Regions from separate parts of the Homo sapiens genome. Here regions 2, 3 and 4 are each reported to be linked to region 1. Evidence: microRNA targets listed by miRTarBase, many of them from high-throughput screens and not tested one by one. Region 1 holds a microRNA gene; each other region holds the end of a gene's coding sequence.
What was found. The annotated mature microRNA hsa-miR-197-3p reads UUCACCACCUUCUCCACCCAGC and lies in region 1 at 983-1,004, shown strand. An mRNA with a match to its seed (bases 2 to 7 or 8) in the 3' UTR can be bound and repressed. Matches are read on the target gene's strand: a 7mer-m8 pairs with bases 2 to 8, a 7mer-A1 pairs with bases 2 to 7 and ends in A, and an 8mer does both.

Region 2: the mRNA of SPIDR is a reported target of hsa-miR-197-3p. Seed matches in the 3' UTR shown: 7mer-m8 at 363-369.
Region 3: the mRNA of CEP19 is a reported target of hsa-miR-197-3p. Seed matches in the 3' UTR shown: 7mer-A1 at 2,312-2,318.
Region 4: the mRNA of HSPA4 is a reported target of hsa-miR-197-3p. The part of its 3' UTR that is shown has no 7-base or 8-base seed match.

Annotation. Positions count from the first base shown.
Region 1 is chr1:109,597,958-109,601,068 of GRCh38, forward strand. It overlaps MIR197 (microRNA 197), which reads left to right and starts at 936; the gene lies at 936-1,010. GNAI3 (G protein subunit alpha i3) reads left to right here. Exons shown (of 9, transcript NM_006496.4): 9 at 1-2,238.
Region 2 is chr8:47,735,144-47,738,254 of GRCh38, forward strand. It overlaps SPIDR (scaffold protein involved in DNA repair), which reads left to right. Exons shown (of 20, transcript NM_001080394.4): 20 at 164-1,163. The coding sequence ends at 307. It overlaps CEBPD (CCAAT enhancer binding protein delta), which reads right to left and starts at 3,021. Exons shown (of 1, transcript NM_005195.4): 1 at 1,770-3,021. The coding sequence starts at 2,977. The coding sequence ends at 2,168. RefSeq lists an enhancer at 2,045-2,983 and silencers at 2,380-2,569, 3,060-3,111.
Region 3 is chr3:196,704,914-196,708,024 of GRCh38, forward strand. It overlaps CEP19 (centrosomal protein 19), which reads right to left. Exons shown (of 3, transcript NM_032898.5): 3 at 1,364-2,999. The coding sequence ends at 2,638. Among named protein-coding and RNA genes, the nearest start is that of CEP19, 5.8 kb to the right of the region's middle.
Region 4 is chr5:133,104,203-133,107,313 of GRCh38, reverse strand. It overlaps HSPA4 (heat shock protein family A (Hsp70) member 4), which reads right to left. Exons shown (of 19, transcript NM_002154.4): 19 at 865-3,081. The coding sequence ends at 2,878. Among named protein-coding and RNA genes, the nearest start is that of HSPA4, 54 kb to the right of the region's middle.

The sequences.
Region 1 (3,111 bases):
TCCTGAAATCTAGTGAGAATCACAAGGTACCAGAAATAATCAAATAATAAATATTAATACACTGCTGGGATAGAAGTATCTCAGTGTACCAGCATTCACTAAGCTATAAAATCTGTGACAGCAGGAATATTAAATTATGAACAACCTGGTTTATCTGTCTCCTCTTATCTTTTACCTCTCCCTACGCCCAAAATTCTCCTTAGGTTATCCAGACATTTTTACTAAGATGCTTATTTATATGTAAGAGAGATTTCCAGTAGATACAACAAAACACAAGAAATCACCTGTTCTGTTTATTCTTGCTCATGTAGGATAAAGGTCCTGAGACCTCTCAGAATCTTACGAGGTTGGAGAGTTGTTTGGAATGCTGGGTTCTGGTCTTGTCTCTGCTTCCAACCAGCTATGGAATCTTGTGTATTCTTTCAGTCTTAAATCACTCATCTGTTATCTAAAGATGGACTAAATTATTCCTTCCTGCTGTGATATTCTGTGGTTCTCATCAGATAGAAATAACATATTTGAAAATGCTTTGTAAATGTTATGATACTCAGGATTATACTGCACAGAAAAAAAAAAATCCTAAGGCAGCACCAACAAAGGTATTCAACGTAGTGGGTGGTCTTTTACAGCATTACTTTGCCCATATTCATTTTGAAGACCTGAAATGAAGTTGAACTATAAATTGCTCTAAAATTCGTGAAGCAGGGTGAAAAGGTCTTTGCTTTGTTTTACATTTAAATCCAGCTGTCTATTTTCTGCTTATACTAGTGCTTTTTCATGGCAAAAAGACAGAAAAGTTCCCTTCTGCAGTCTCCAGTGTCTTCTGACCTCACAGAAATGTTTTCATGCTTTTACCTAGCAGGACCACCAGAGGCTCTGTCACACTTGCAGTCCCTGGCCCAACACCGAAATCCTTCTGGAATCTGTGCTCTGGGGGCTGTGCCGGGTAGAGAGGGCAGTGGGAGGTAAGAGCTCTTCACCCTTCACCACCTTCTCCACCCAGCATGGCCGGCACACTTTGGTCTACGGCACATCTCCAAGTATAGAGTGGGTTTTGAATGCTGTTATGTCTCACCGTGGGGATGGGAAGGAATACTCTGTTTTGGACTATTTGGAGGTACATGTGAGTGGATTTTATTACCAGAGTAGGAACTGTTTCAAGTTAATGTGTCTTTTATGTTGCTTTTAAGACAACTTTTGTGCCGCTTTTATCCATTCTTCCTTTTATCCACAGAAATACAAATTTCTAATTATAGTATATTTTTTCTATTTTTAAAATTGTGATAAAGCATATATAACAAAATTTGCCATCTTAAGTGTACAGTTCAGTGGCATTAAGTACATTCACACTGTTGCACAGCCATCACCACCATCCATTTCCAGAACTTGTTTTCATCTTCCTGAACTGAAACTCTGTACCTGTTAAACAGTAACTCCCCATGCCCCACCTTCTTTCAGCCCCTGGTAACCAGCATTTTCCTTTGTCTCTATGAATTTGACTATTTTAGATACCTCATATAAGTGGAATCATAGTATTTGTCCTTTTGTGTCAATCATATTGTATTTTTGTCTAAAAAAGGAAAACTATCAGATTTATGTGAAATGTAACGTAATTTACATTTGATTTACTGTTAGTAATGTCTCTTTAATCATGCTATGCTAGGGAAGTACATTATGGTCTCTCCCTCTAAGAATATGAAGAGGAAATTTTACCTTCAACAAACAAGCAAACTTAGTTATATTTTTGTGATTTTATGCTGTTTTCATATTCTATTTTGAGATCTATTTGTCTTAGCTTGGAGGTGGTTTTGTTAAATGTCCACGATTTAGAGACGGCATAATGAAAAAATGACCAAGAATTTGGTTGGGAATGGGAGGAGCTTAGAAGAACAAGAAATTGGCTTTGATTTTATAGTGTATGGTGCTCTGTTGGTAGCTGGACATCATCACAGGCTTTGGATTGAGAAGACCTGTTCTGGAGTTCTAGTTCTGCTACTGCCTAGCGTTGTGATCTTGATGAAGATACTCTTCCTTCCTGGGCTTCAGTTTTTGATCTATAAATTGCTAGTGATGGGGCTGGACTATTTTTAAGTTTGTTCTAACTTTAGCAGTCTTAAGAATTAAGGTTGCATGCCAGAAAATAGGGTTAAATATTTGTTTCTGATCTGGTTACAAAAAAAAAAAAAACTTGATGGCTTAAAGTAAATAAAAATTCAACAGTACGGTGTAAATTTAAAATGAGGCAAAAGAAAGATAATGACTTAATTTTTATTTTAATCTTTCTTATAGCTGTTTTATATAAGAACTTTTCATGAATACAATCAAAATGTCCATGAGATAAAAATAAGCTAATTGTGCAGGAAAAGTACAAATGCACTTTTTCTGCAGCTCTAACATGTAAGGTTTGGGAACAATCGTTGGGCCTGACAAACAGTTGAGCTAGGGTAAGGGTGAATGCCTTTTCTGGAAGCCTATCAAGAGCATCGAGGTGAAGTCCTCTTACCTTTAATCATGGGAGAGCCCATTCTGGACCAAGGGTTTGAGAAAATTATTCTGACTGTGTTCTAAGGTAATAGGTGAATGGGTGCTCAAGGGCCCCTGTTGCATTTCATGTAGACTTGCCAGAAGAGTTTTAGCTTGAAAACATCATAAGATGAATATAGGCAGATCCCAAACTCAGTAAAAAAACAGCTATAGAATGTTGCTCTATCCTCCAAGATGAACACTTTACATAATGTTTGTACAAGGTGGCTTGTGTGAGTTTGTTGATAAACCAGTTAAAAGTTGGGATATCCCCCAGCTATCCCAAAAGAAGAGGACTAAATACAACCATGTTTTAGTCTGCTAGAGACTTGTGTTCTGACCTAAGACCTGTCAGAAGACCTGTCCCACTGGCTCTGCTTCTGTACTAGTACTATAAGGCAGGTTCTGTGTGAACATTAATAACCAAGGATCCTGAGTTAGACTTATAGTTTGGTCAATAACCAATTTATACCTAGATTGAAAGACCAAGGAAAAGTTAATAAAATAATCAACAATCTGGTACTATTTGAGGGAAAGTAGGGCTATCCTATTTGGAGATGGAATAAATGGGATAAATTATGTTTGGGG
Region 2 (3,111 bases), not on the chromosome of region 1:
TTCATTTGTTTCTCCTTCCTACCACTGTTCTCAGCCATTTGAGGAGTGGAAGGTCGTGGACTGGGGAAAGGGCCTTCCACTCTGGCTCTCTGGTTTTCCGTGTTGTTGGGAACAGTACGTCCCAGGCTGTTTGCTTTAACCAGCGTGCCTTTTATCACTGCAGAGCTACGAAGTGAAGAGTGTCCTCGGAAAGGAAGTGGGGTTGTTAAATTGTTTTGTCCAGTCCGTAACCGCCCACCCGACCAGCTGCATTGGATTGGAGGAAATCGAGCTTCTGAGTGCAGGAGGGGCCTCTGCAGAACACTAGCGGTTGCCGCAGGATCTGTGAACTTTGCAATGTGGCTGCAAGGGTGGTGGTGGTGGTGGTGATTTGGGGTAGTTATTTGTTAACTATGGACACAGTGAACGTAGTTTACGATCTTGAAATGAAACTTAGATTTTTCTGGGGAAATGTTCAGATACAGTTTTGTGAACTGTAAATCAAAATACCTTTTTCTACAGTTTATCTTTTATTTTCTGCAAATTTAGGAACATATTTACTCGTTTTCACATTGAATCTTAAGTTTAAGCTCTTCATTTGGTATTTAGGCAATATATGAGAAAAAAATTTTTTTTGTTCATTTGTAATTTTAACAAGTTGAACATTTTACCATGATTGAACATGTTTTTATTACAGTATTTAACATTCCCCCAAAGAATACCCTGCAAAGTGTAAACCTTTGTCCCATACTGTGATATTACTGTTCTGCTACAATAAATGTCAAACCTAAGCACTTTGCAGTTCACTACTTTTGGGAAAATGTTCTAGGGAACTGTATCACAGGTGAAACTGTTACCCATAAAGTGTAGCTCTCTGAACTGGTGTGATCGTGTCTCTGCTGAATGGTGGTGGGGATAGCTGGCTCCACCACACACACCTGTTTTAATTAGGCTGGGTAATGTGCACGGAGAGCAAAGATCACAGACTAAGGAGCAGTCAGTCGGATATTTGCTTTGCTGGCAAAGATTTAAACCAAGAATTAATTATCTTTGGACACTATAAAGATTTTGTTCCCTTCCTTATAGCAATATAATCATGACAGGCCATGGTTAACTACATCAGATACACGTAGCAGCCGTGACCAAGACATGGTGCCCTAATACCAAGTGTTCTTGGGTTAAAGGCAGGCGGCTTTTTAATTAAATCTTAAAGCACTGCAATTACTGGCAAGACAGCTGGTCTTAAGCAGTTTTGTGACTGCCCTTTTCATCCACTACATGACTATTCCGGCCTTTCTGGAGCACTTTTGAAAATCTACTTGACTCTGTCCACAAGACTGAGGAAAGTGAAAGCAAAGTCCCGGGAAAGCGGGAGATGATTCAGCCCGGGGTTCTGCCCCTCGCCCCTCCAGCAGCCTCTACAGTTAGGGAGCTCTTGAACTGTTCTCAGCAGGGGCCCCCAAAAAGTCAACCCTTCCCCAGGTCTGCGTTCTTCGGGAGAACACCTTCTGCTGGAAAGCTGCTAGCTTACCTGAGCTCAGCCGTGCTCCACCTAGCTTAGGCAAGTTAAATAAGGCCAGGAGAGAGCCTTTAATGCGTTTTAAAAGCGACAGACCCTCTCTCCTGAGTAGCTCGGGCCTGCGCCCCATCCCCCCGCCCCCCCCACACACACACCTGGCGCCCGGGCTCCCTGGTGCTCGCTGGCTGCGGGTCCGGAACGCACCCTTCCCGAGCCGGGTCCTGCGCCACCGGCGGGCGGGCGGGAGTCACTGCGAATATAGGAAGCAGGGGCGATTTCAAATGCTGCTTTATTCTTACAAATACTGTAAAAATTAATATAAAAAAGTGAGCATGCTCAGTCTTTTCCTCTTATCTACAATACAAAGGGTTTGTCTGAAAAGTCTGGTTTTTTTTCTTTTTACAAATGTACCTTAGCTGCATCAACAGGAGTAAGATGTAGAAAAAGCTACCATTACAAAAATAATTTAAGGGAAAATAAACACGTTTAGCTTCTCTCGCAGTTTAGTGGTGGTAAGTCCAGGCTGTAGCTTCTTTGCGCTCCTATGTCCCAAGAAACTGCAGCGGGCACCCGGCGGCTCTGGCTGCGCCAGGGCAGGGCGCGCTCCGCTCCGGGCCGTCGGGTCTGAGGTATGGGTCGTTGCTGAGTCTCTCCCGCCCCGGCCGCGCGTTACCGGCAGTCTGCTGTCCCGGCGGCCGGCAGGAAGGGCGGGCTGGGCAGCTGCTTGAAGAACTGCCGGAGGCCGGCCAGGTCCCGCGTGAGCTGCTCCACGCGCTGGTGCAGCTTCTCGTTCTCAGCCGACAGCTCCACCAACTTCTGCTGCATCTCCTGGTTGCGCCGCTTGGCCTTGTCGCGGCTCTTGCGCACGGCGATGTTGTTGCGCTCGCGCCGCTGCCGGTACTCGGGGCTGCCGCGGTCCGGGCCCCTCTTGCCGGCGCTCTTCTCCCGGGCGGGGCCGGGCGCGGGGGTCTGCCTGGGGCTGCTGCGCGGCGGCTCCGGCGACGTGGGCGGGGTGGGCTGCCCTGCGGCCGCCAAGCTCACCACGGTCTGTGCGCACGCGGCCACCTGCGCGGGCAACAGCGAGCCGGGCGCGTCGCCGTCGCCCCAGTCGGGCTCGCGCTTGAGCAGGCGGGGAGCGGCAGGGCCCGGGCCCAAGGGGCGCGCGGGGCCGCCGGGAAGAAGCTCCAGGGGCCCCGCGCCGCCCGCCTTGTGATTGCTGTTGAAGAGGTCGGCGAAGAGCTCGTCGTGGCACAGCTCCAGGGTGGGCACGGCGGCCATGGAGTCGATGTAGGCGCTGAAGTCGATGGCGCTCTCGTCGTCGTACATGGCGGGGGCGGCGGCGCCTGGCTCGCCTAGGGCCCCTGGCTCGGCCCCGCGGCCCGGCTTGCCCGCCCGGCCCGGTTCGTAGAAGGGCGCAGGCTCCGCAGGCCAGGGCGCGCCGCGCGCCGGGCCGTCCAGGCTGAAGAGCGCGGCGCTCATGGCGGCGTCGGGCCGGGCTCTGCGTCCAAGCGAGGCTGTCACCTCGCTGGGCCCAGCCCCGCCGCCTTTTCTAGCCCCGGCTGACGTGCACGCCCCGCCCCGACTCCGGCACCGCGGGGGCGCCCCGGGGCCGC
Region 3 (3,111 bases), not on the chromosome of region 1:
GGCCTCCTGCTCCTCCTCAAACATGCAAGGCACACTCCAGCCCCAGGGCTAATACACTTACCTTTCCCCGCTAATCCTGAAATGCATACCAATTTTTCCTTGCCTCCTTCAGGCCTTTGCTCATCATGTGATCTAAAACAGTGGCTCCCATCCCCTCTATCATTCTCCTTTTCATCCCATTTTGAGCACTTACCATCTGATGACACTATTCTATGCATTTATGTCTCTGCTCTCCAACTGTAAACCCAGGACTTTGCTGTATATACTGCTGTAACCCCAAACTCCAGAACAGTACAGGCTTAGAATGTAGTAAGTGCTTATTAACTACAAATAATGAATGAATGAACGTCTATTGGTGACAACTTAGTATCTATTAAAACTTAGAATGCACATACTTAGTAATTCCCCTTTAGGCATTTATCTAATAGATATCCTTGCATATGTGCAAAACAGAGAATGTACAAGGTTATTTGTTGTAGCACTGTTTGTAGTCATGAAAGGAGAAAACAACCCAAGGATAAATTTTTTTTTTTTTTTTTGAGACAGAGTTTCACTCTTGTTGCCCAGGCTGGAGTGCAATAATGGCATGACCTCGGCTCACCACAACCTCCACCTCCCGGGTTCAAGCGATTCTCCTGCCTCAGCCTCCGGAGTAGCTGGGATTACAGGCATGCACCACCACACCCGGCTAATTTTGTATTTTTAGTAGAGACGGGGTTTCTTCATGTTGGTCAGGCTGGTCTTGAACTCCCAACCTCACGTGATCTGCCCGCCTCAGCCTCTCAAAGTGCTGGGATTACAGGCATGAGCCACTGCGCCCAGCAACCCAAGGACAAATTTTAAAATAAGTTACCTATAGCCAGGCACAGTGGCTCACATCTGTAATCCTAGCACTTTGGTAGGCTGAGGTGGGTGGATCACTTGAGCCCAGGAGTTCCAGACAAGCCTAGGCAACATGGTGAAACCCTGTCTCTACAAAAAATACAAAAATTAGCCAGGTGTGGTGGTGGGCACCTGTACTCACAGCTACTTGGGAGGCTGAGAGGGGAGGCTCACTTGAGCCCAGGAGGTTGAGGCTTTGGTGAGCTGTGATCATGCCACTGCACTCCAGCCTGGGTGACAGAGTGAGACCCTGTCTCAAATAAAAAATAAACTACCTATATCTATACAATAAAGAATAAAGGAATACTATGTAGATATGGAAAGATCTCTAATTCAGAAAATTATTTGGCTCCCTTTGGCTACTGTATGTATGAGATCTGACTATTTCAAAACTCTGGTGATATCACTACAAGAATGAGCTCCCTTTTAATGAAGTGCTTAATGGTAAGGAGAGTGGAAGTGAACAGGTAGAAACACTGAGTAATTATTTTCAGTTTTATTTAATAAACATCAATTTCCTTGTAGAAAACATAGAATTTCTACCAACTAAACAATATTGTAATAAGGATAAATGTATCAAATCACAGATAATGTTGTTAAACGAAGATGCTGTCTTGCAGATCCATTCATGAACAGGCCTAAACTGGCAGTGCCTATTGTTCATTTATTATGGGTGGATTTCCCATTTTACAAACAAACCTTTTATTTATGGGAAGAGGTTCAGCGTTTCGCAATGTCTTTAGTATGTATTTCCCGATACCGGAGGGGCAGAATTCCCCCTCTGTCCATCAAGTGACATCTGCTTGCAGCTGTAGGGAATTTTGCAGGGTACTCTTTTCCAGAGATAAATAATATAAAGATATAACACATAAGAGGTAATTCCCTGGTAACCATATATGTCCCCCAATCTTGTCTTGTCAAACTATAATTTGCTTATGGTTCCTCAAAAAAAAAATTGTTTCTTGTCCCTTTACTACTTCCCCTCTCCTTCTTTTCAGTTGCTCTTATCAGGAATCCTACACAAGCATCTACCTAAACACTACTATTTCAAGGGCCAGGCCACCTCCTATCTCTTTACTAAAGGACAAAGTCTTCCCTTACTATTCTACTCTACAGTAATATATGCTCTGGCCTTCTTTAGCCTTTATCATGCATTTGGCACTAATGTTTGTGTTGCTTAATACTGCTAATTAGCTTTTCACAGGTTTTGACATCTTCCAGTCAGATTGTAAGCTTTTTTTTTTTTTTTTTTTTGAGATGGAGTTTTGCTCATCGCCCAGGCTGGAGTACAATGGCGCGATCTCGGCTCACTGCAACCTCAGCCTCCCAGGTTCAAGCGAATCTCCTGCCTCAGCCTCCTGAGTAGCCGGGATTACAGGCACCCGCCACCACGCCTGGCTAATTTTTGTATTTTTAGTAGAGGCGAGGTTTCACCATGTTGGCTAGGCTGGTCTCGAACTCCTGACCTTAGGTGATCCACCCGCCTCAGCCTCCCAAAGTGCTGGGATTACAGGCGTGAGCCACCGCACCCGGCATGATTGTAAGCTCCTTAAAGGCAGATTCCTTTATTCTGTTTTTCCCATACTCCTCATGCACCTACATAGTAGATGCTTTAAATGTCCTGGTTTTGAAAAGTAACATGGTCAATCCCCTATAACCCAACATATTTAGTATTCTTTACAGCTTCTTCCAGAACCAGTCTGGTAATAAACATGGATATTCTGCTAGCCCAATGCATGTTTTGAGTGTTTGGTATCAGAACTCATCAGCTGACTCTGTGTCCCAGCCACAGGACTGCAGTTGATCGTCCTGTGGAAATTCAACCTCAATGTCATAAACAAAATTTGGATCATCCTTCTTCTTCTGATTTTTCTCAAAAAGTTCATCCATGATGCTCTTTCTTTTGGCAAGCTCCTTGTCATCTAGTTTGTTCAGGTCTTCCTCAGGATCAATGGTTGTTTCCCGTTGAATTTGTTCCATTGTTTCTGCCAGACTCTGCCCCGACAAGTAACCTCGTAAAAAACTGAATAGCTTCTCTAGCTGCCTCAGGGATACTTGTTCTAGGTAACTCTTGTGTCGCGGATTATTCTTTAATTGTTCAGCAGCTCTGGTGCAATCTGGGAGAGAGAAGAAAACTATATACCACATACGTACCACGTACATCATATACGCCATAAACTACTGCAACAGCCAAAACAGAACAAAAACTCTGAACCCTGAAAATATTAT
Region 4 (3,111 bases), not on the chromosome of region 1:
TTCACTGCAGCTTTGACCACCTGGGCTCAAGTGATCCTCCTGCCTCAGCCCCCCAAGTATCTGGAATCACAGGTGCACACCACCACACCCAGCTATCTCAGCTCTTTCTACCACATCTAACAATTCCCCTACAGAAACCACTTACATGCTCAGGAGGAAACCAAACCTACTAGACACACGTTTCTCAGACACGTGGCTACAATAGGCCCTGGGTAGGCCCTGGCAGGTAAGCTGCTCCTACAGCCAGAGGACTAGGACTGTGCAAGGGGCATGACCCAGGGAACAAGACCCCTGACCCCTCCTCGTCTAGACCCATGCCTTATCCAGTTAAGGTCTTTTTCACTGGCTTAGTGCCCTTTAAACACCCATCACCACCACATACATACACCAACACACATTCCACGCAGCCACACCACACATCCAGTGGCGCCAACTATTCTAGCACACTCTGGACCGCGCTGTTCTTTGGCCAGGTGTAAGTCCTAGCACTTACCTTTATGCCATAACCCCCGCCTTCTGCTAACAAAACCCTCAAAGTAAGGCCCAGTCACAGGAGCAAGACAAGGATTCCTAACACCAAAGGAACTGGGCCAAGACTCAACTGGAGAGTTTGAGTACAGAAAAATTAGGCAACATTTTCTCACAAAGTAGGCAGTGTGCTTCAGCTGTCACTCTTCAGACTGGAAGTCTTCAACGGATGTTAAGTGAAATTTAGCTCAGAGGGTTCCTACTCCTAGAGAACATTTTTATTGAAAACACACCCCCCGCCCCCACCCCACACACACATACACACAGACACACACACATACACACACACCCCCACACACACACCCAGCAGCCTTCATTATGGAATTAAGGAAACCATTCAAGTTTAAGACAGGTTTATTTTATTAGTTTTTCCTAAACTTGTCTCATGTTTACTGAATGATTTTCTTAGTGTAAGAACGTGACCTGGAGCTTTAACAAATCAGTTTGGATAACGCAACCTGGATAAATGCTTGTCTGTACACAAGCCATCAATTACCACTCTCTGTCCTGGCCTCCATGAAAATCCAATTGGTCTTAAAGCCTGTCTAAGCAGAGAGCAAGCAGACCACATCATCGTGTTTCAACTTGAAATTCACCCCCATCCCAGCACCCACACCCTTCCCCACACACACACACACACACACCAAAAAAAAAAAAAAAAAAAAAAAAAAAAAAAAAAAAAATTTTTTTTTTTTTAAGAAGAAATGGCCATTACGGTCTGGGCCAGTTGTAAAGGGTTGGCTTAATCCTGCAGCCAGCACTTTTAAAATAGCTACTGGCTTCACAGCAGGCCAGCTGGAACTCTTGAAGCATGACAGGTAGAGAACAGAGGATGTGCTAAGAACCTGGCCTTGTTGTGGTGCCTCGAGGCCTCCATGCATGCTTACACACCAACATAAGTATACTTTCCCCTTCCTCCTCCTAAGCAATTGTTCTCCATTGCACTTTAGAGCCTGTAACACTCAAACTTTTCAATGTTATCTAGAGATGGACAAACGCTTAATTCTAACTATGCAAGATAGCATCTTATTTCTAACAACATAGGCCAAAAGTAACAGAGAGGCACTCTGTTATACAGAATATCAATTTTTACAAAGATTCAAAACATTACCAACAAGCCCTGTAACAGTTTCTTAAAGCAGGTACCAACTCTGGCCTCAAACACAGGCTTCCCTTGGAGTTTCCAAAATGCCTCACTCCTGTCAACACTGCCCCAAAAAGCAGTCAGAGGAATGCTTTGGTATACCTGACATTGGCCACACAGTTAAGAATGAGGTGTTGTTATAACATCAGGCACCACACTTCTTTAACACTAATTTCAGACTCATCCAGTACAATCCAGTGTATCTTAGTTTTTTTTGCATCATCTGTCAGCTGCTTAACACGTACAAATTGGCAGGTTCATGACAGATATTAACACTTAACACACAAGTGATTGTGAATGAGCTAAAAAGAACTTTTAACTCTTGTTCTAGGAGTTCAAGCTATACCTCAAAATTATACAGAACATCTCCCACCTGAATAAACAGGCCAGGATACAAATCTTTACACCAAAATTAACAAGGATTTAATTCCTCAGTTAAATTTACCATGGCTATATCCAACAGTATATCTACCCAATTCTAATCTTCTGAAAATTATTTAGACCTTGATGCTTGGGGTATTCATGAACATACTTTCAGGAAGAGCCTCCAGGTTTAAAGCCCTCAGTTAACAACTTACTCTAGGCAAGGGGGTCTATTTTCCCAAGAGAAGTACATGGCATTTATAATGGGAGCCCTTTTATTGGGAGAGAGGGAAGAGAACACAGGTGAGGGTGAAGGTGAAATATGAAGAAGCTCAGAGCACACCTTTGTTCCTCTGCCGTGTTAATCCATGCCGTGCCATGCTCCAGCCCTCACAAAGAGGGGGACCCCATCCCCACACCAGGCAGGGAGCATTTAAAGCAATCTCCACAACAGATTTTTAAAGCATAATTAGAGCTCCTGCCATGTAAGTCATAATGAAAAGTCTGCTGGATAGCTAGAGCTGTAGCTATAGCTCAACTTTCCAAAACAAACTTATTCTTGTAGACACATGGTTAAACATAAAGGAGTGAAGCATAAGCTCAGTAAGACTAACTGGGCTTCTAAATAGTACCATTATGAAAAAGATACAATGCACTTAATTTCTGTATCTAACTATTTAGAAGTGAAAATGCTCCATACATTACCTATTTCCCCTCCCCGAAAATCCCCTAAAAACTGACTAAGAAATCTTCAGTATTCACTTGCGCTAGTTGATATTTAGAACAAAGTTGACAACTTAAAGCTTTATAATAGTCTGTTTTAATAGAAACAAGTGTTGGAATCAATCAATGTCCATTTCAGGAAGCTTCTTGTCTGAATCCGAAGGCACAGCTGTGTCTGTACCCTGCTCAGCAGCCTGGGGGCCTGGGTTGTCTCCTTGTCCATCCACTGGTCCATTCTGCTCTGCATTTTTTTGTTCCTCTTTTGGAGGTTCCACTTTGGGTTTGGGCTTTGAAATTATAGGGCTACAAGTACTTGTCAGCTCCTGGAATGGGTAAGACAGAAAACTGGTTTC